2 separate regions of the Homo sapiens genome follow, and region 2 is linked to region 1. Evidence: fine-mapped expression QTL. A gene starts in region 1. The other region holds a variant in brackets. All regions are shown on one strand. Distances are from middle to middle.

Region 1 (9,971 bases):
AGGGGAGTGGGTAGATGGACAGAAAGAACACTCAGGGCCCATAGGCAGGTGAATATGGTTTTATTCAGCAACAGCTCTCATCAACAGCTTACACTAGCTCTCTCACACTGTCCGCCCTGCCTTGGCTGCTTGAGCCCGTGGCTTCCACACACAGCTGTGCAGCCTGCTCTCCCTTGCCTTCAGGGTCAGCAGCTTAACTTTTTCTCTCTCTGGGCGTGAGCAAGCTGAGCTGTGTCCTGGCTCCTTCCTGTCCATCTGCAAAACGGACAGCTTTGGCTCTCTCTCTCTCTTACTGGGCGCCAGTGTGCCCACCATGTCAAGCCATGTTGAGCTGAGCCGAACCCCAAGAGCCCCTGTACAGCATTAGCAGGACAATTACCTTTTACAGACAACAGTGGCTCAGACCAAGTATGAACTTACACAAACAGGTTATATAACAAGTGGAGGTGTGTGCCTGTGCACCAAACCCACTGAGTCATGCAGGCATGGATCTCTGCCTTGGCCTATTCCTTGACCAAAGCACATCCATGTACCTTACACCTGGGTCTGAAGTAGGGTTGCCAGATGAAATACAGGACACCCAGCTAAATTTGAATTTCAGGTGAACAACAAATCATTGTTTAGATTAAGCATGTTCCATGCAGTTCTGGGGACATACTTAACCTTATAGATTTATTTCATTTATCTAAAATTCAATGAACTGGGGCAGTCTGTATTTGCTAAATCTGCTGACCTTAGTCTAGAGGCAGTGGTATGTTCCAGCTGACTCCAATCAGCTCATGAGAGTCAACTGTAAAATATTTAGGAGATTTATGAGCTGGTTATTAAACCACTGGTGGCTTGAAATCAACCATGGTGGGAGTATTTACACCACAGAAATTGGTGACTACCACACATCAGTGCTTTTCCTTTACAGAGCTGGTTATAGAACATTCCCCCTGGCTGGGTGCGGTGGCTCACGCCTGTAATCCCAGCACTTTGGGAGGCCAAGGTGGGTGGATCACCAGGTCAGGAGATCGAGACCATCCTGGCTAACACGGTGAAACCCCATCTCTACTAAAAATACAAAAATTAGCCGGGCATGGTGGCGCGTGCCTGTAGTCCCAGCTACACGGGAGGCTGAGGCAGGAGAATGGCGTGAACCCGGGAGGCGGAGCTTGCAGTGAGTCGAGATCGCGCCACTGCACTCCAGCCTGGGCGACAGAGCGAAACTCCGTCTCAAATAAAAAAAAAAAAAAAAAAATTAGCTGGGTGTGGTGGCGAGCTCCTGTAGTCCCAGCTACTCGGGAGGCTGAGGCAGGAGAATGGCGTCAACCCAGGACGCAGAGCTTGCAGTGAGCCGAGATCGTGCCATTGCACTCTAGCCTGGGTGACAGAGCCAGACTCCGTCTCAAAAAAAAAAAAAAAATTCCCCAATATACCACTGTCCAGAGGTTTCCTTGTCCTTAACATATTAGGTAGACTCAGAGGTTTCCTTGTCCTTAACATATTAGGTAGACTCTAAAACCACGTCCCTGGGTGCTCCACAGTCACACAGGAGTCAGATCGCATCTAAGATAGCTGTAAGGCTTAGTATATTAGAAAATGGAAAATTCCACTCCTAGGATCCTAGAATGAGGAATGTTGGAAACTTAGAATTCTAAAACAAGGATGTTAGAATCTCAGAATTTCAGAAGATGGAATGTTAGTGTTGAAATCAGAGACTGTTAGACAGTATCCATTCCTCACCCCTCTCTAGCATACAGATGGCCAAGGCCTCACAGCCTGACCAGACCTCTGGCTGGCCCTCCTGGCTCAGGGCCCAGGCTTCTTGCGAGCCACAATGAAGCAGACCCCATTGTTGGCAGCATTGGTGACAGAGTAGCTCTGGGGACTGTGTAGGAGCTGTTCAATGTCAAAGCCAGCATCCAGGACAGCCTGCTCCACCTCCTCTTTCTCCAGGGCCACGCAGGAAAATTCACGCTTCCCCACCATGTAGGACGGGAGCCGAAGCGTGACAGTGGTCACCAGGTGGCCACCCGGCTTGAGCAGTGAGGCAAGGTTGCACAGGGCAGCGCGGTAGGCATCAAGGCTACAGCAGGCACACTCCATGGCCAGCAGGGTGAGCACACAGTCGGCGAGAGGCAACACAGCCGGGGCCAGCGGGTTGCCCAGGTGGACATCGCACTTGAGCACCCGCTTCACCGCTGCCCGCAGCTTCTCCTCCTTCTCCTCCCATCGGCCGCTGCAGAGAGAGAGAGGGAGTCGGGGAGGCCCTTTGAGGTTCTGAAGGGAACTCTCAGTCCACTGTGACCAGCAGATGGAGATGATCTCTGGATCCCCAAAGGATTGCTGTCCCTGAGTCCCTGTGTGACCTGACAGCAGGCTCTTCTTCAATCTGAGCCTCAGTTTCTCCCAAAGAAAAATGGTTAGGGAGAATGGCTAGAACAATTATAGGAAACTTTCTCTCTCTGATTCCATGTGAGCCCCCTTCCCTTAATCCCCAGGATGGACAAAGCCACCCCAAGCACAGAGAGGGCAGTTAACAAACATTATTGGATGGATGGATGAATGAATTAATGAATTTACTACAGATAATGTATGAATATAGCTATCTTAAAAATATAATTTTGAGTGATGAAAAGCAAATCGCAAATGACACAGAGCAAATTACTCTGCTATAAAGCTCAAAGGCGACTAAAACTAAATTATAGATTGTTTAGATATACATAAGTATGCAAGAAAAAAATTTTTTGAAAAAGGGAATGATAAGCATAAAATCCATATTAGTGATTACCCGAGGTTGGGAAAGGCAGAGGCAAGGAGTCACAGAGAAGCACAGGTAAGTCTTTATTATATTCGAGTACTCAGGTTGGGTGGTGAGTTCACGTCATTATACATTATATAGTCAGTCACACAGGTACAGACAATAGAGGGAAGAAGGAAAGATGGATGGATGGGTGGGTGGGTGGATGAATGTGGATGGACATGGATGGATGGATGGATGGATGGATGGATGGATGGATGGATAGATGGATATGGATGGATGGGTGGATGGATTGATGGATGTATAGATGGATATGGATGGATGGGTGGATGGATGGATAGATGGATGGCTGGGCGGATGTATGTGGATGGATGGATGGATATGAATGGGTGGATGGATGGATGGATGGATGGATATGGATGGATGAATGGATGGGTGGGTGGATGGATGAATATTGATGGATGGATGAATGGACGGATGGATAGATGGATGGATAGGTGAACGGCTAGTTGGCTGGCTGGATGGATGGATGGATATGGATGGGTGGGTGGATGCATGAATATGGATGGATGGATGGATGGATGGATGAATGGATGAACCGGTGGGTGGACGGATGGATGGATATGCACGGATAGTTAGATACATAGAAGATAGAGAGGTAGATATATAGATGAGGGTAAGGAAGGAAGAGAAGAAGGAAGAGATGAAAATCATCTGGTTTTCAGTGTTCATACTTGACTATATCACACCTCAACATAGTCCTGTGATCAGAGTCTTGCCCCTAAAACTGCTGTAATCCTGAAACTTGGGATTCCATCTACTCTATCCCCACCACAGGACATCTGGTCCTATACCTGAAGGTCCTACTGTCCTGAAAATGTCAGAGACAACAAAGAGGCCAGGGAGACTTCTGAGAAAGAAGGTTGACTGGGAACCCCCTCCCCAACCTCTGCACCCCTACCTGTTTCCTTCCAGCTCACAGGCGAATTTCACCGCTGGGGTCCAGTCATAGGCCCCCGGCTCCTTCTTCAGCCACTTTTCCAGCTCCTCCCGGTTGCGGTCGGTAAAGTCGGAGAGAGTGATGTCTTGGAAGGAATCACAGGCAGCAAGAACTTGGTAGATGGTAGGACCTGAGCCAATGTCAATCAGCGTGTCCCCTTGGAGGCCTCCTGTGGGAGGGAAAGACTGGTAATGGATGGGTAAAAGAAACGAGACCCAAGGCAGACACAGGGATGAGGACACACACCCTGGTCTTACCCAAGGGGCAAACGTGCTTGGTGGTTATCACGGATTGGCAGCTCCCTGTAAGCCAAGCCTCATGCCAAATATTTTATATGTGTTAATTTCCATTTACACCTCAAAACTACCCTGTGTAGTGACTGCTATCACTATTTTCATTTTGCAGATTAGAAAACTGAGTCTGTAAAAGGTTAAACAATTAGCCCAATACCTTTCAGTCAAGAACATAAGCCAAGAGTATAATATTTCTGGGACAGAGAACAGAGGCCCAAGCCCTGCTCTGGGGAAGATTCGGGCTGGAGAGTTCAGAGAGGACATGCTGGGGTCAGTGGCCCTTTAAGTTTCAGGCTGACTGGGAGCTGGAAGCCTCCCCTGGAAGTCCAGCCCTTCCTGGATGGGTTTCTTGTTCCTTGGAGGAGGGAGGGGTGAAAGCATACAGGAATAGGAAGCCGGGGCTAAGGAGATGATCTGGGAAGATGGCCCCAGGAGTGAATCCAGGGTCACCTGGAAGCTGGAATGAAGCATGACTTCCAACATTCTGTCTGGAGCCCTGGCGTGGGGCCATCACTTGGCCTTCCAAGCTTGGTCACACCCAGTCCGGCTGTTCTCTGATTTCTGCCTCCCACACCGGCCTGCTCCTCCAGGCTCAGCAGCCTTTTAACCCCCTCTTATCCCACAGACCACCAGGAGACTCACCCTTACTGTTCCCCAGTCAAGTGCCTAAAGTGAGGACACGGCTGCTTGAGTTTAGAAGACACAATCAAATCATGGGGTCACCATGGGGAGGGCAGTGATCATCGGGAGACAGGCAGAAGTCACCATCCATCGTGCAGATGGCTCAGTTGAGGTCCTTGGGGTCTGAGCCCCTTGCTCAGGGTTGAGACCCCACCTAGCAATCCTTGTCCCAGGGCAGGGCTTTTCCAGGTCCTCATCACAGACACATCTAGGCTGCACACTCCGGGCACAGGCGATCCCGTCCCACTGCAACCCTGCTGTTTGCCCTTGGCCTTCTGGGGGCCCCAGAGGCCTGGCTGTGCAAGGTCAGGACTGAACTTGATGATGACCTGGAGAGCCTTTTCTGCTCCACCCCAAAGACCTAGGGGCTAATGGAGAGCAGTGTGGGAACTGCACGGGGCTGTGCTCTTCAGCTGGCACAGAGCTCCTGAGCCATGGGGAGACAGACTCAACCTCCAGCATAACAGCTGCCCAAAGAGAGGGGGCAGGGCCCCAGAAGCTCCCCCAGCCCATCCCCAAAAACCCCTAGAGGAGACCAGACTGCCCCCAGGACACCGTCTCCCCATCCCCATCCAGGTTCCTTGGAGAGAGGCTCAAGGGGAAGGGCCACCCTCTGCTCACCAGGGCCGAAGGTCTTGTGGAGACATTCCAAGTTAAACTTCAGCATCTCGGCCTCGGGTGAGGGGCTGCCATCGAAGCTGTAGTAAGTAGCCAAGTAGTCCCTGGGCAGGAAGTGCTTCTGGTACTCATCACCCCCAGTGAAGCCACCCTTCATGGTGTCCCTGAAATGTGCCCCCTCCTTGCTATCAGGTCTTATGAGGGCTCCAAGCTCTCCAGGCTCCACCCCCAGCATTCCAGCCTCATCCCATGGCTCCTCCCAAGTATGCCTTTCCTTGAGCTTCTCCTTCTAGGGGGATGCAGAAGGCAGTGCATGTCTCACCACCTCCCAGCCACACTGACACACCTGAGGTTTCCCCAACCCCAGAGCTATGACAGCTGGGGCTGCAGCCGCCCTGGCCCTGCTGCCTCTAGGGACCAACCCATGTCCGTCAAAGGCAATTGATGGTGCCCAGCCCTGGGTGCAACTCTCAGCCCTGGCAGCCACATGCTGCTCTGTGGCCTCCAAGTAGGTGTCAGACCTATGTTTCCCCACCTGCGTGCCCACTTCACTGACTGTAAGGACCAAAGTCACTCCTCTAAGTCACAGGTGTTGTGACCTGAGTGCACAGTGAGATCCCCATCTTGTCGCCTGGTGGTCACTGGGGCCCAGTGGCTCTCTCTAGGCCAGGCAGTGGGTGCAGCTTCATGCATCCCCCATCCCTGCTGGAGAACACAGTTCAGACCCCAGGAGGCAGAGCAGAATGGCTGACTTGGCATCACTGTGCAGGTCACTGGGAGAAGAGCAGAAATTGTCGTCAATCTCCATGAATGAGAACAAGGGCGCCCGGTCATAAAGCATAAACTGTCAGAGGGGTCCTGGCTTCCTGGCCACTGACTCACCTGGCTACTCCGGGTAAGACACTCCTGGCCTCAGTCTTCTCTTTGAAATGGGACTGGGTTGTAAAATCTCCCACAGACAGAAAAAAGCTCAGTCTCTGTTTTTGGCACTAGGAAATGGCTCTGACTTGGCCACAAACCGGACAGAAATGAATCCGCTACACTGGAGGTTCAGGCCTCTTGCCCTGAAAGTGGGAAGGACAGGAATGCCTTGTTCTGGCTTTAAGTAAACAAACAATTCTGAATCCACAGGGCCCAACAGATGGGTGATGCCACAGACGCAGGAACACCCAGCGGTCGTCAGGGCCTGGCTTCCAAGGGGCGGGTGCCTGGGCAGCCTCCAGGGAGGCCTGCGGCTGTCGTGCTGGCCTGCAAAAGGCATACAGAGCAGGCAGGAAACTGCAGGGCTCGCATTACATGATTGGAGGAGTGTGCAATAAAGGCACGGTGCTAACTAAGTTGTGGGCAGGGTGGAAGGAAGACATATGGTACCTCTATTAGTCAGGGTTCTTCAGAGAAAGAGAACCCAGCTTGTGTACACTGAGAGAATCAGATCTATTTTAAGTAATTGGCTTGTATAATTGTGGAGGCCAGTAAGTCCAAACTCTGAAGGGTGGGACCAGGAAAAGCCAATGTTGCAGTCCAAGTCCAAAGACCAGCTGCTGCCAGAATTCCCTCTTGCTCGGGGAAGGCCAGTCTTTTGTTCTACTTGGGCCATCAGCTGATTGGATGAGTCCCGCCCACATTATGGAGGGCGATCTTCTTTACTCAAAGTTTAAATGTGAATTTCATCCAAAAACACCCTTACACAAACAGCCAGGATCATGACTGACCACCTATTTGGGCACCATGACCTAGCCAAGTTGACTCATAGAAAGCACCATCACAGAACCTGAGGGCTAGCAGCATGGAGGAGCCATCATCCCAGTGAGACTGAGACAGAGCTGTGCAGAGAGGGCCTCCTGCAGCAGCCAATAGCAAAAGAGCTGATATGATTTGGCTGTGTCTTCACCCAAATCTTATCTTGAATTGTAGCTCCCACAATTCCCACATGTTGTGGGAGGGACCCGGTGGGAAGTAATTGAACCATTGGGGCAGGTCTTTCCCATGCTGTTCTCATGATACTGAATAAGTCTCTTGAAATCTGATCATTTTATAAGGGGGACTTTCCCTGCACAAGCTCTCTTTTTGCCTGCTGACATCCATGTAAGACATGACTTGCTCCTCCTTGCCTTCAGCCATGATTGTGAGGTCTCCCCAGCCATGTGGAACAGTGAGTCCATGAAACCTTTTTCCTGCATAAATTACCCAGTTTTGGTTATGTCCTTATTAGCAGTATGAAAACGGACTAATAGAGTAGCTAAAGAATAAATACCCAGACCTCCTTCTCCTACCTTCCTCCAATATCCTGCCAAATTTAGAGGGAAGGGAGTGGTGACTACAGTCCACATGTCAGCTTCCTGGCACTTGCAGTAGCCTGGAGAGGATGGAAAGCAGAATGGAGAGGCACATGGAAGACGCCCAGCATTAACACTTAAGGAGTTGAACCGTGGACATGCATGTACTATCCAGGGATTACCCAGAGCCCCTGCAGCAGGACGTGAGCATCTAGGGGGTCTGTACAGGGCGGGAAGAGACCATCCTTCCCAGAACTACACATCATGCTGCAACTGGATGTCCTTGGATGGATAGAGGATGCCCCTCCTAACGCAAGGCCTCCAGTGCCTCCTGCTGCCAGAGGAATGAATCCAAACTCCCCTTTGGCATTCAGAGTCTCTACCCTCTGGCTTCCACCTGCTTCTCCACCACTCAGGCCTTCTCCATCCCTACATGCCTCGTGACTCTGGCCTAACCAAGGGTCCTAACAGCACTATGGCAATCTTCTCAAAGTGAAGCCTCTTACGGATATATTCTAAGAATGAGTTTCTCAACCTCAGTACTATTTGCTCTTCAGGCCAGGTAATTCCTTGTTGGGTGGGGGTGCGGAACTGTGTCATAGGATTTTTAGCAGCATCTCTGGCATCTACCCCCTAGATGCCAGTACACTCCGAAGTTACAACAACCAAAAATGTCCCCAGACATTGTCAAATGTCCCCTGGGAGGCAAAATTGTCCCCGGTTGAGAACCACTATCCTTAGGTTTGCCTTCATCAATGTGACAACTTTGTTCATGACAGGGCTAAGCTTCAGGCCCTTTTAAGAATGTGCACCTCATCTTAGGCACCTTTCTATACAGTGATATTTTTTTAAAATAGAGCAAGGAAATTTCCATTCAAGAGGACTTCTGTTGCAATAGTAAGCAAAGGGGCAAATTTCAAACTGCCTATCAAGAAACTAAGACCACTTGAAAAGTCAGACAGATAAGAAAAGGATCAAGCTCCTTTTCAAGATTAGGGAAACTACCATCTCAGCATTCCACGCTCCCTGATACCTTGCTACTTCTCTTCCTGCCTGGCTCTGTGGGGTGAAGAAATGAGTCCAAAGAGGGAACTTGCCAGTGTAAATGAGATTGTTTTCTCTGGTGAGTTGCAAGCAGCTACTCAGACCCTCGTCTCACACAAAACACCAAAATAAAGGCTAAAATGTCTTTCCAAAAATCAACCACAGAAGCTATCATGGTCAAATTGTTATCAAACTTCTGGGTAAGAGAGGATTTTCTAAACCTAGATTGAAGAAAGCCTGAAGAGAAAAAAAAAAACCACATTTATTATTTTACATTATATTACATTATCTCATATTTTGTTAGAGAAAAATTAAAAATTTTTCCTAAAAAATTAAAAAGAAAAAGCACTATTTTCCTTTTGGAAAAAAATTTGGTGATTATTTGCCTAAATTATTTATACTAAAAGTTTTTAGAACTCTGACCCAGGAATCCTACGTATGGGAATCCAAAATACAGAAAAATACAGAATGCAGAAATACAGAAAAATAATCCAAATACAGAAAAAGCAAATGTACAGGGGTATTAATTACAACATTATTTACAGCAAGGAAAACCTGCAAGTCTCTTACCTGCCAAGCACTGGAGAGCAATTAAGTCAACCTTACTTGAACAGCCCCCAAAACTGACATTCCTGAGCCTTCCTGGTGACATGGAGAAGTGAGTTTGGCCCAGGGCTAGGAGAACAAAGCGATCCAGATAGGTACACACAGTGAGGAGATCACAGCCCTGCAAAGACTTTTCAGATGCAAGAGTGCAGCGGCAGAGGCCAATTCTGACATGAGAAATGCTGGGACAAATATAAGACCCTCAATGTCACCAATCATTTTAACCCACCTAGAATTCACGTTAATTGGATTTCAATATGAATTTTTTTTTTGAGACAGGATCTTACTTGGTTTCCCAAGCTGGGGTGCAGTGGTGGGATCATAGCTCACTGCAGCCTTGAACTCCTGGGTACAAGCAATCCTCCTACCTCAGCCTTCTGAGTAGCTGGGACTGTAGGCACACGCCATCCCATTCAGCTAATTTTTAATTTTTTTTGCAGAAGCAGGATCTCGCTATGTTGCCCAGGCTTGAAATTCATTTTTAATAAACTGGGTAGACATCTAATTTTATTTTCTTCCAATCAGATAGGTAGTTATGCCATCACCATTTATTATGTAATTGACACTTTTCTCACTGAACTGAAATTCCACAGAGTATGAGCTCTGTTAATTTTAGAAAAGAGGAAAATTTACATTTAACACAATAAAATGATAAGAATTATGATTTAAAAATGGATTAAAATCTACACTCTGTTGAAATGTTTTCT
Region 2 (9,971 bases), 89 kb before region 1:
AGAAGTTTCTTTAAGAGTCGAATTCCTCACAGGTGAAGTGCAGGAAAAAGACATTTATCTAGAGATAGGGAAAATAAATGATCTTGAGGGAATAATACATCCTGCTTTTACCTAAATTACCCAAGTGTTTCAGATGAAAGAGATGTTTCTACCCTAACTTTCTCAAAATAGCCTCACCTGTCCACTGTGACGTGCCCATGGAGCCATGTACAGAGTCTATAATTTGGGGGAGCTCCCTGTCTGCTCCCTCTCAGGGTCAAAAGCTGCAATAGGGGGTAGAAAGGCTGGCCTGGGGCTGCAGGACCATAGGTTCTGCTACCAATGTCCACAGAGGCCTTGGGCAAGCACCTCTCCTTATCTGGGCCTCGAATTCCCCAACTTCAGAGGGGAAGTGGAAGTGAGAGGAGGACTTCCTGGATTCCCCGACTCTCAGATCCGCACCCGCCTCTGAGGGCCGTTCCTGGCCTGTGGCTCTCTCCAGGCCTTCAGGGGGATCAAGAGCTCTTCATCTCTTTCTGTGAGCCAAGCCGGCACAGCCTCTTCTCAAGTGGAAAAACACCAAGTACTGCTGCCCAGCTCCATCCTTCCCGACTGAGGAGAGGCCGGCTGCCGGCCTGATGGAATGAGTCGTAATGAAGCCAGACAGTCCTGCAGAAAAAACACCACCACTGCCAAGATGCCTTTATTTCAGCGTGACTTCCCTGGAGGGTGCGATCCCATCCTCCATCTGCTTTCACAGAACCATTTCCCCACCAGATGTGGTGGGCAACATCTGAGGTGGGGGCCTCCAGGGCCAAGGCAGACCCCGCACACAGGCAGGAAAGTGCAGGGGCTGCCTCTGGGTCCACAGGGCCTGAGCTCCCCAGAGCCGCAGAGCAGATGGCAGCTGATGGCAGGTCATCGTGGTGTTCCTGAAGAAAACAGAAGAGCTTGCCCTTTTTTTTTTTTTTTTTTAAGCTGGATCATGTCTGAAATCCTAGAATTTCAGAGTCAAAAGGGAGTGCTGAGGCCTCACACCCAACCATTCACACATGGCTTTTGAAGGAACATCAATAACACAATCAATCAATGTGAAAACTATATAAGTCAATGAAACCGAGGAGCTGAGGACTGAGAGAGGTTCCTGCCCACGTGACCCAGTGTTTCCCTTTGCTCGTGTGGGGCAGGGGCTCTGTAGGTGTTTGCTATGTTGCTCTCTGTACTCTTCTGTGTTCATCTTTTCTAACTTAAAGCCAAAGGGGAGGTTCCACCGTGAAGCCGTTCATGAACAGAGCCACCCCTTGGTCCCTAGGAGTCTGTGTGGGTGTCCAGCGATGGAAGTCTAAAACTCAGAGCCCTCAGCCTTCCTCCTGGCCTCCCTGGGCCCCCACTGCTCCATGCCTCTTGCAGGGCACAGCAGCACAATGTGACACAGGGGCACCAGGTGCCAGTCTTGGTTCTGCCAGGGATGCCAGATGTGACCCTGAACAACCATCTTTCCCTCTCTGGGCCTCAGTTTCCCCATCTGTACCATGGCAGGCTGAGTTCAATGGCCCTACTCACTTATAGAGCCCTTGAAGATTTACAAAGGACTTTGCATTTTCTTACTGAGTCCAATTTAGGCAAGCCAGAGATGACTATTCCTAGTTCACAAACGGAGAAAGTGATGCTCTGTTTCCACACAACCATAATCCAGGTCCTGACCCGGTCTGGTACCCTCTTCAGCACCCTTCCCCTCTCCCAGGGTGGCTGAGGGGCACAAAGCCAGGCATTCCCCCTCCCAGCCTGGGCACCAACATCTACAGGCTAGACACCCACCCACTTGGCAAGGACAACCTTCTGTAGCCTCTGACCTTCAGGGCCTTGGCAAAGCAGTGACATGGACTCCACCTCCCTTCTCTTCTCCAGGCCCCCGACAGCAGGCCCTCACTCCCTGGTCTTCCGGGTCTTCACTTGACAGAAGCCCTAACCTGTCCTCAGGAGGGTTCTTCCTCCCCAACCCCTATCTACCTGCGACCTGAGGCAGGACCAGTGCAGGAGAGTGGGAGGAGACTGGGGTGGGAGGGCTGGGGAGGGCATCTGGTGCCTGCTGCCCAGGGCCCATCACCAGGAGGAGGCGAGTCCTTGCTGGGGTCAGGGGAGACGGTCTCTGGGCCTCCCCAGCTTGTCTCCCTGTGACAGCTCTGCCTGAGTCCCCTGAGGCTTTTTCAGCGAGCTCCATAACTAAGCCAGGCTCTCCACTCCTCCCTCTCAGGGGAGTCTGAAGAATGTCCCCTGAGGCCTGCTAGGAGGTCTGTGGGAGCAGGAAGTCAGACCGCTTCACTCAACCTGCACAGCACAGCACCTCTGTGATGGGGCAGCAGCCGGTAGGGGTGGGCTACAAGCAGCACCCAGTCCAGGGGGTGGGCTACAAGCAGCACCCAGAGTTGCAGGGCTCCAAACAAAAGCGAGGTCACTCTCCTACACCATGAATCCTTCCAGGCTCGCTGGAGAAGGTGGCCCTGGCCAGCAGGCCGTGCTCTCCCAGCTGCATGGCACAGACCTCCTCTGGTCCAGCCAGGCAGGCCCCCCCATAAGGTCTGGCTCCTTGGCACCTGGCACACCTCCACACATGATGACCCCCAACAGGCCAGCAGCTCCTTCTTCCCTCCTCCTCTGCCCACCCCCACAGCCCCAGGACCCACTGGGCTGCACCATCCTTGGCCTGCAGCTAGGAGGTACCTGCCTGGCCGGCAACGACAGATAGAAAACCTCACTCCTCCAGCTTAGCAGTTTTCTTTCTACCCAGACACCCCCTTGGGATCCCAACCTGGATGGCTTTTGCCTTCTAAGGCCTGGCTTCCCTCCCTGGTGTGGACAGCAGTGGGCTTCCACCCCATGGATGTGGCCTGGGGGTGGGGTAACAAAAACCAAGTCTGCCTTGTGCCCTGAGCAGAGTCGGCTCTTCCTGGAACATGCTTAAATGCCTTGTCCTGACTGTTGGGAAACCATCCACAAGTTCCCCCAGAAGCCCACGGTGAAGTTCAAAAGCAACTCTGAAGGAGCACTAGGCTGAAATGAGTTTAGAGACAATCTCCTGCAAGGGCCAAGGCTTGATCCAAGCAGCTGGCAGCACCCAAGGCCCCTCTGGCAGCCTGGCGCTGACCTGCCACTACCCCAGCTCCCACCCTCCTCCTCCAAATGCTGCCCTAACCACCCCCAGTGACTCCTCCACTCCTCTCACTGCCCACAGGCTTTGCACATCTTGTTCTCTTTACTGGAATACCATTCTGCCTCCCCTCCCTGTTTGGATAACTCATTCATTTGTCCATGTGTTCTCTCAACAAAAATTCTGAGGGCCTCTTCTGTGGACCAGACACAGGGCTGGATGCCAGGGCCCTGGCTGTGAACCAGCTCAGGAAGGTCCCTGTTCTCACGGGGCTTGTGTTCTGGAGTGGGGTGGGCAGTAGTAGGTGGCGGCAGATGTGGACAGGTAACCATATCGATGAGCAAGAGCACCAGCTGGCAGTGGAGTTATTAGAGGCAGGGCCTGGTTTTATCTTAATGGGGGAGGTCCCAGGAGGCCTCCACAAAGATGTGGCCTCTGTGCAATGAGAGGAGCCAGCAGGCACAGCGCCTGAGCACAGAGCCTGAGGGCTCAGGAAGGTGTTTGAGAATATTTGCTGGGAAGGTGAAAACAATTTGAGGGGGAATAAGAGTGTGCAAGGATGCATATGAAGGGGAATCAGGGGTTCTGTCCATCCTTCCTATCTCCGTAAGATGAAAATGTCAGTCCACCAGGCTGCCCGCCCTGAGCCACTTCATGTCCAGATGAACCCTTAGCACCGTGCATGTCCCCTGTAACCACCTGTTCCTGTCTGGCTCTCCTGTTCAATCATAGGTGCCATGAGGGCACCTGTATGTGTCTTGTTCAGCCCTGTATCCCTGCTGAGGACCTGCTAAGCACACTCTGCACATTTTTTTCAGTGCAAGGAAGGAAGGTGGGTAGGTAGGTAGGTGCATATGTGCTCAGTATCCCTGTACCCTCTGAGGGCAGCCAGCGGTTCTTACTTAGCAAAGTTCCACCCAGTCAGGAGCATTCCTGAGCATACAGGACTGTGTTGAGCCCACCAGGGAGAGCTGATGGCAGGGTCTCTGCCCATGACATTCAAACCTCCCAGCCCTTTGTGGGGCTGAACTTCCAGAGCAGGCAGTGGGGCATGATCCTGTACAGACAAGAGCCACGAAGGATCGACCGGAGAGCAAAGGGGAGGGGAAGCAGAGAGAAGAACAAGGACAGGTGAGATCTTGCCACGGAAGTGTTACATTGCTGTGCTTCTGATTAGCATTTTTGGTTGGAGAGGAAACACCTCAATTATTATTGTGCAAAACCATTGGAAAAAATTTTAAGATGCCAAGCATGAAAAGCCACCTTCACTTGAACCCTAACTAAGGAAAAATCATCCGTGCTGGTGAAATGTGTTTCATTGGAGTACCAAGCTTGGCTGGATGGCTCTCCTAGTGAACAGTGTCGTTCCCAGGAATGCATGGGAAATGGGTCTTGTTGTCTGGGTAACACCTAGGCTTTTTTAAAAAAGATTCTCAAATGCTTATTTCAAAGAACAAGTACCTTTCAATAAAGTTCAGGAACTGGCAAGATTAAGCTATGGTTTTAAAATCCATTTAATTATTAATATAACTTCAGGAGAATAGGGGTACCTGCTGGGTACCAGAGGATGCTTCTGGAGTACTAGAAATATTTTTTCTTAATCTAGACAATGTGTTCATGGGTGTGCGGTTTTGTGATAATTCATTGAGCAGAACACACATAGTATAACTACTGTGTATATGTTATATTTTAACTAAATTTTTTTTTTTTAAAAAAGGCCAATTGCCAGAAGTTCTGTAGCTCTGAGGGTGACTCGGTACAAGCTGGTAACCGGGCCTGCAGGGAGGGAAAGAGAGGCAGGTCACTTCCTCAAGAAGGCCTCGCCTCCAGCCCCACCAGTGCCCTGCCAATCCTTTCATCTTGGCACCAACGATGGTATGGGATTGGGGTTTTCTATCTGCCTCTCAACCTCATGGAGCATTTCTGGAGAGGACAGAACTCATCTAATTCTCCCCTGTATCATTTGTGCCTGCACAGAGATGTTCCAGGAATGTGTGCTGAATGAATGAGAATAAGGTGCTCATGTGCAAACACTTAATGTGTGAAATGGAAACTGAACGGCTGCAGGGAGTGGAAGTGATGATCTGTGGGGCGGCCTGGAATGTGTGGTTATGAATGTTGG[C/T]AGAGGGGAGATAGCGTGGGGAGGGAAGGGAGGCCCGGACGCAGTCGAAAGGTCGGCAGGTCGACCTGGTGGGTGGAAGGGATTCGGGCAGCTTGCCGTCTGAGGAGGGAAATTGGTTTTGATGTCGTTCCTGCAGCCCCTTCCCAGGTGGAGCACCACTGAGAACCCTCCCCGCTTTCAGAAACAAACGCGCACAAGTCCCCTTAACACTGGTCTGCGCAGGCCTTGTCAGCTAGCTGCCATTAACCTCTCCTTTCTTGACCTGCAGAAGACAGGAAATATCAGGGAACACACATGCTTCCTTGCTTGTTTTTTCTGGACACTCTGGGGAAGACTTGGGAAAATAAGATATTGCCAGAAAGAGCACTGACTTACTGAGCACAGTCGGCTTTGCTATCTCCTTCAAACAGGAGTTTCTGTAGGACACAGCCTTGGACAGCTGCCAGGACTCCGCAAGGACCACCCTGCAAAGAATGAGACCATTGCTGCCAGTGAGAACTGGCCTGGGGCAGAGTTTTTGGTTTCACCCAAACCCACCCCAGAACCCACCTGATAGAGTAAAGGGGCCCTGCCTTCTGCAACAGAAGGGCCTCTGATGTGGCAACTGCTTCTACAACACACTAACCTTGGGCCACAGAGAGGGAGTGACAAGACCCTTTGTCCACTCCTAGGGGAAGGGGCCAGTTGTCAGTGTGTCATGGGAGGAAAGTGACTCCTCATAACCAGTCAGCTGTGAAGCCAAGGACATCACCATAGGTTTTCTATCATCTAGGGAAATGTTTCTGTGTCTACAGGTTGAGGGTGTTAATTGTCTACCCAGCCTTCAAGGCCCATCCTAAAGTTCTCCTCCTCCAAGAAGCCTTTCCTGACCATCTCGGCTGGCAGTGAGCCCCTTCAACAGCCTGTGGTTACATGAGCTCTGCGCTCTCTTCTGCCCCACTTGTGGCCTGCTTCAGCACCACATTAGGTGTATCTTTGTCCTTTCTCACCCTGTGGTGCAGAGGCTTCTTGAGGAGCTCATCTCTGTAGGCATCACGGGGCTTAGCACAGGATCTGACTCCTGGGACACATTGGCAAAGGCTAGTGGGACTGAACAACACAAACAGACCTCATCCAGGTTTAAGGATTGTCTGAACGGCAGGTTGGGGTGCTCATGAAGACCAGCTGAGTTTGGCCACAAGAGGGAGGGACAGAAGCTGGTGGTCCTGGGGCTCGACCTCAGGCAGTGTGGGGCAGGGGAGGTTCCTGGGGCTTAAGAAACTGAACCGGACCAAGCTGCCCTGCTCAACTGCTGATTCTTGATCCTGGGTTTAGCTTATTTTCTGCCCATGAGTATAATGTGGGAACTGGGTATAAGCCATGTTCTAGGCCTGCAACCATTGGCCTCCGCTGGCCCAGCTTCTATTACATCCTTCTCTTCAAGCACTTGCTCTGCACACTTGATCCCTCTGCCTTTTCATGCAGCCCCTAGACTTTCAAACCGCCTCCCCTTCATTAATGCTGCCACCTGCCTGGAGTGCCCTTTCTCCAGCTCTATCTGCAAAATCCTGTGAATCTCTCAATGATCAGCCTAAGAAGGCCCCTCTAGTGGCCCCAAGCAGACTGAAGGCCTCCTACTGCTCTCTCTCCTGCTGAGGATCCCAGCACCTGCACCACTCACAGCAAGTGCTCCTTAAATCCATGTTCAATTTTAACATCTCCAAAGCAGAGGGTCTTATTCCCCAGCTCTTGCTGCACCAGCCACATCTGAAGTGCCTGCACCAAGTGACAACTCAGCACATGTGGGGCTGGCTGGTCCAGAATAGCTCAGCTAATGCTCACAGGATTAACCAAAACTGGGAGGTACACCCACCCCTATGCATGATGGCCCAGCAGAAAGGTCCCAAGGAAACCTAGGAGCAACCTGCCTTGTTCTGCACTATGCCGTATTTTAATGAGGCTGTGTTACTAAAGGAAAAACTCTGAAGTTTCCATTCTTCATTGAAACAGCAAAAGCTGGAACCAAACAGAAGGGTCTTTATTTCCTATAAAAAGAAGAGAGAGTTTTACTGGTTGTTTTAAAAGCAAGCAACAATACGATGTTCAGTGTGCATATTCCTGCAGAAGTTGTTCTTGAATTCTAGCAGGGAAGCCCATTTTCTAGCATGGTTCATCTCTTCTCTTTTTATTTTTCAGGCTCATTCTTCTTATATTTGATGAAAGAGAAACTCAATAATGAGGGTCTTACCTCTGGAACATCTTTAAACCAAGCTAGCCTGTGCTGACATGGGCCAAAATCTTTGTAAGCTCCTTACAGGGGCCTTGAGAAACAAAATTTTAGATTTGCAAGGGATCTTGGAGGTCCTCTGATCTTCCACAGGCAAGACTAGGGGTTTTCAAACTCGACCTCACATTAGAACCATCTAGGATACGAAGTTCCTAAAAACAATCTTGATGTTCAGAAAACACACCAGCCAATTAAACCCCAGTTGCTGAGGGTGAGACTCCAGTATCAGTAGTTTTAAGATTCCCCCAGGTGATTCCACAGTGTGCCGGGTTTGAGAGCCAGTGCTCTAGTGCAGGGTTACTAAACTGTGACCCACAGGCCAAATCTGCCCCCACCACCTGTTTGTAAATAATGTTCTACTGGCACACAGCAAAGCCCATTTGTTTCCATACCACCCATGGCTGTGTTCATACCATGATGGCAAAGTTGAATAGGTGCAGCAGAGATCACACTGCCAGCAAAGCCAAAAATACACTATTGAGCCCTTTACAGAAAACACCTGCCAACTCCTGGTCTAGTACAACTCTCTACCATGCGTAAGAACCTCCTCTGTGATGCCGCCCATGAGTGGTCCCCCGTGAACTCTGCTTGAACCATCCCAACCCCCCAGTGAAGGGGTTCCCACCACCTCTCAAGGCAGCCCCTCTACTTTCTCACGGCTGTCTTCTCCAGACTTCTGGCTGATAATGAGTTCACTGTTCATTTCCCATCAACCCACGCATCACCCTCCAGAGCCCCCAGAATGGTCAATCCCTTCCCCATGGACAGGCCCTCAGATGAGAAAGGCAGCAGGTCCCCGCCCACTCCCCTCATGATGGGCCCACCCTCTCTCTGCCATGGTTTTACATCTGAGGGGGTCTCTGAAGCCTTGAGTGAGCCCCAAGACCAGCAGGTGGATTCTACAGCCACTTCCCTGTACCCCCTCTCTGGGTCAGACCTTTCCTACAGACTCATTATTTTCCACCAGAATCAGCTCTTTTTTTCCTTTTCATTAAATATAAGGAAAAATCTCTTTGACAGAAGCATTTGTCCACATGTCATCAAATGTGGGCTGGTGGCACACAGGAGAAAGGATGTGTGGATTCATCTGTCAGGGCTCAGAATGACAGCTCCCGCTAGGCACAGTGTGGTCAACAGAGCCTGGGAACCTGGACTCTGCTTTCCAGAGGCCACGTGCCCTGGGCCCTCCTGTTTTCTCTGCAGGCCTCACTTTTTCCAGTTGCTTTTGGAGACGCTACTGCTGCATAGTCTTTAGGAGCCTGAGGGGTCTGCCCCAAGCATAAGTGCGCTCTGCAAAGACTCATTGCATGGTGACAGATGACAGAGCACCTCCTCCCAGGTTTGGGGCCATTTAAGTGTATCTGACCCTCTGTAGCTTCAAAAGAGAGAATGGAAGAAGGGGGAGATATGAGAGAGAAGGGGAGAGGGGAGGAGAGGGGAAGGAAACGAAAGGACAAAACCTCTAGAAAAATATTTTGCTCTTTGATTTGTATGCTGAGTAAATATGTAGTAAGTAGGAAGAGAAGGAAGTCAGCTGTGTCCCTAGGAGTTTTATTTTTCCCTCCTGGATCTTGGTGAAAGGCCAGAAGAGGACAGCGGGAATGACATTCCATCCTGCAGGAGCCTCTGGTCACGGGAGTGGTGAGGCCACCCTGGTAGCCGAGCATGGTGAGCAATCCCAGACACCCCTGCAGAAGAGGCTGCTGTGGCCAGGAACCTGCTCCTGGTCCCCTGTGACCACGGGGCCCTTTAAGTGGCCAAGGGAGTACACCTGAACAGTGCTGAAGAATTGTTAACACCTCCCTGTCCTTCCTTCACTGCAACCTGGCCAGGGCTTAGGAGACCAGTACAGGAGCAGCGCTGCTCTAATGGGGACAACTGGACCATTTCCATCACACCCTAACGGTGCCCACAGGGACATGATGAAGCAGCTCTATTCCCACGGTATTTGGAGGGGAGGACATAACCTCCTCCCTCACCTTTTGTCTTGGAGAGGGAACGAGAGCTGCAAGGACTAGACTGCAGTTTTCCTGACTCTCGGTTCACATTTTCTTCTACATCACACCCAAATTTCCATTTCAACAATGACCAAGAGATTACAATGAGCTGGATTGGGGCAGAAACACCAAAATCACGCCATCTATATCCATTCAAATCAAGACACATTTAACCCAGGAGTCTCCTTACACTTACCTTTGCTACTGAGAGGTCAATTGGTTTTGATGCTGTCTGCAACTTGAGCACTGATGGGACTGGCGACAGGATGACCTCTTCCCTTATCAACTCATCCTCCACATCCTCTGAAAGAAAACCATGGCCATGTGAGCCCTTCGTTATGACTCACGGAGAACAGAACATGAAGTCACTGAACACCACAGACATTGCTAAGTTTGTAGAAGGTTTGAGTGAAAGGAGGGTTCCTCCCCGCATTCATTCACCCCAGCTCTGTTCTGAAG

Evidence for each region. PIP is the estimated chance that this variant, and not a neighbour inherited with it, causes the effect.
Region 2: its variant is the best candidate, but not a certain one, in a credible set for the expression of INMT-MINDY4 in coronary artery (GTEx, PIP 0.51).

What each region holds. Positions count from the first base shown.
Region 1 is chr7:30,747,675-30,757,645 of GRCh38, reverse strand. INMT-MINDY4 (INMT-MINDY4 readthrough (NMD candidate)) reads right to left here and starts at 5,511. Exons shown (of 20, transcript NR_037598.1): 1 at 5,342-5,511; 2 at 3,708-3,912. It overlaps INMT (indolethylamine N-methyltransferase), which reads right to left and starts at 5,511. Exons shown (of 3, transcript NM_006774.5): 1 at 5,342-5,511; 2 at 3,708-3,915; 3 at 44-2,224. The coding sequence starts at 5,495. The coding sequence ends at 1,795.
Region 2 is chr7:30,836,502-30,846,472 of GRCh38, reverse strand. It overlaps MINDY4 (MINDY lysine 48 deubiquitinase 4), which reads right to left. Exons shown (of 18, transcript NM_032222.3): 7 at 9,709-9,815; 8 at 7,157-7,273; 9 at 5,625-5,713. INMT-MINDY4 (INMT-MINDY4 readthrough (NMD candidate)) reads right to left here. Exons shown (of 20, transcript NR_037598.1): 9 at 9,709-9,815; 10 at 7,157-7,273; 11 at 5,625-5,713. Among named protein-coding and RNA genes, the nearest start is that of MINDY4, 70 kb to the right of the region's middle. The variant C/T (reference allele first, on the strand shown) is at 5,250.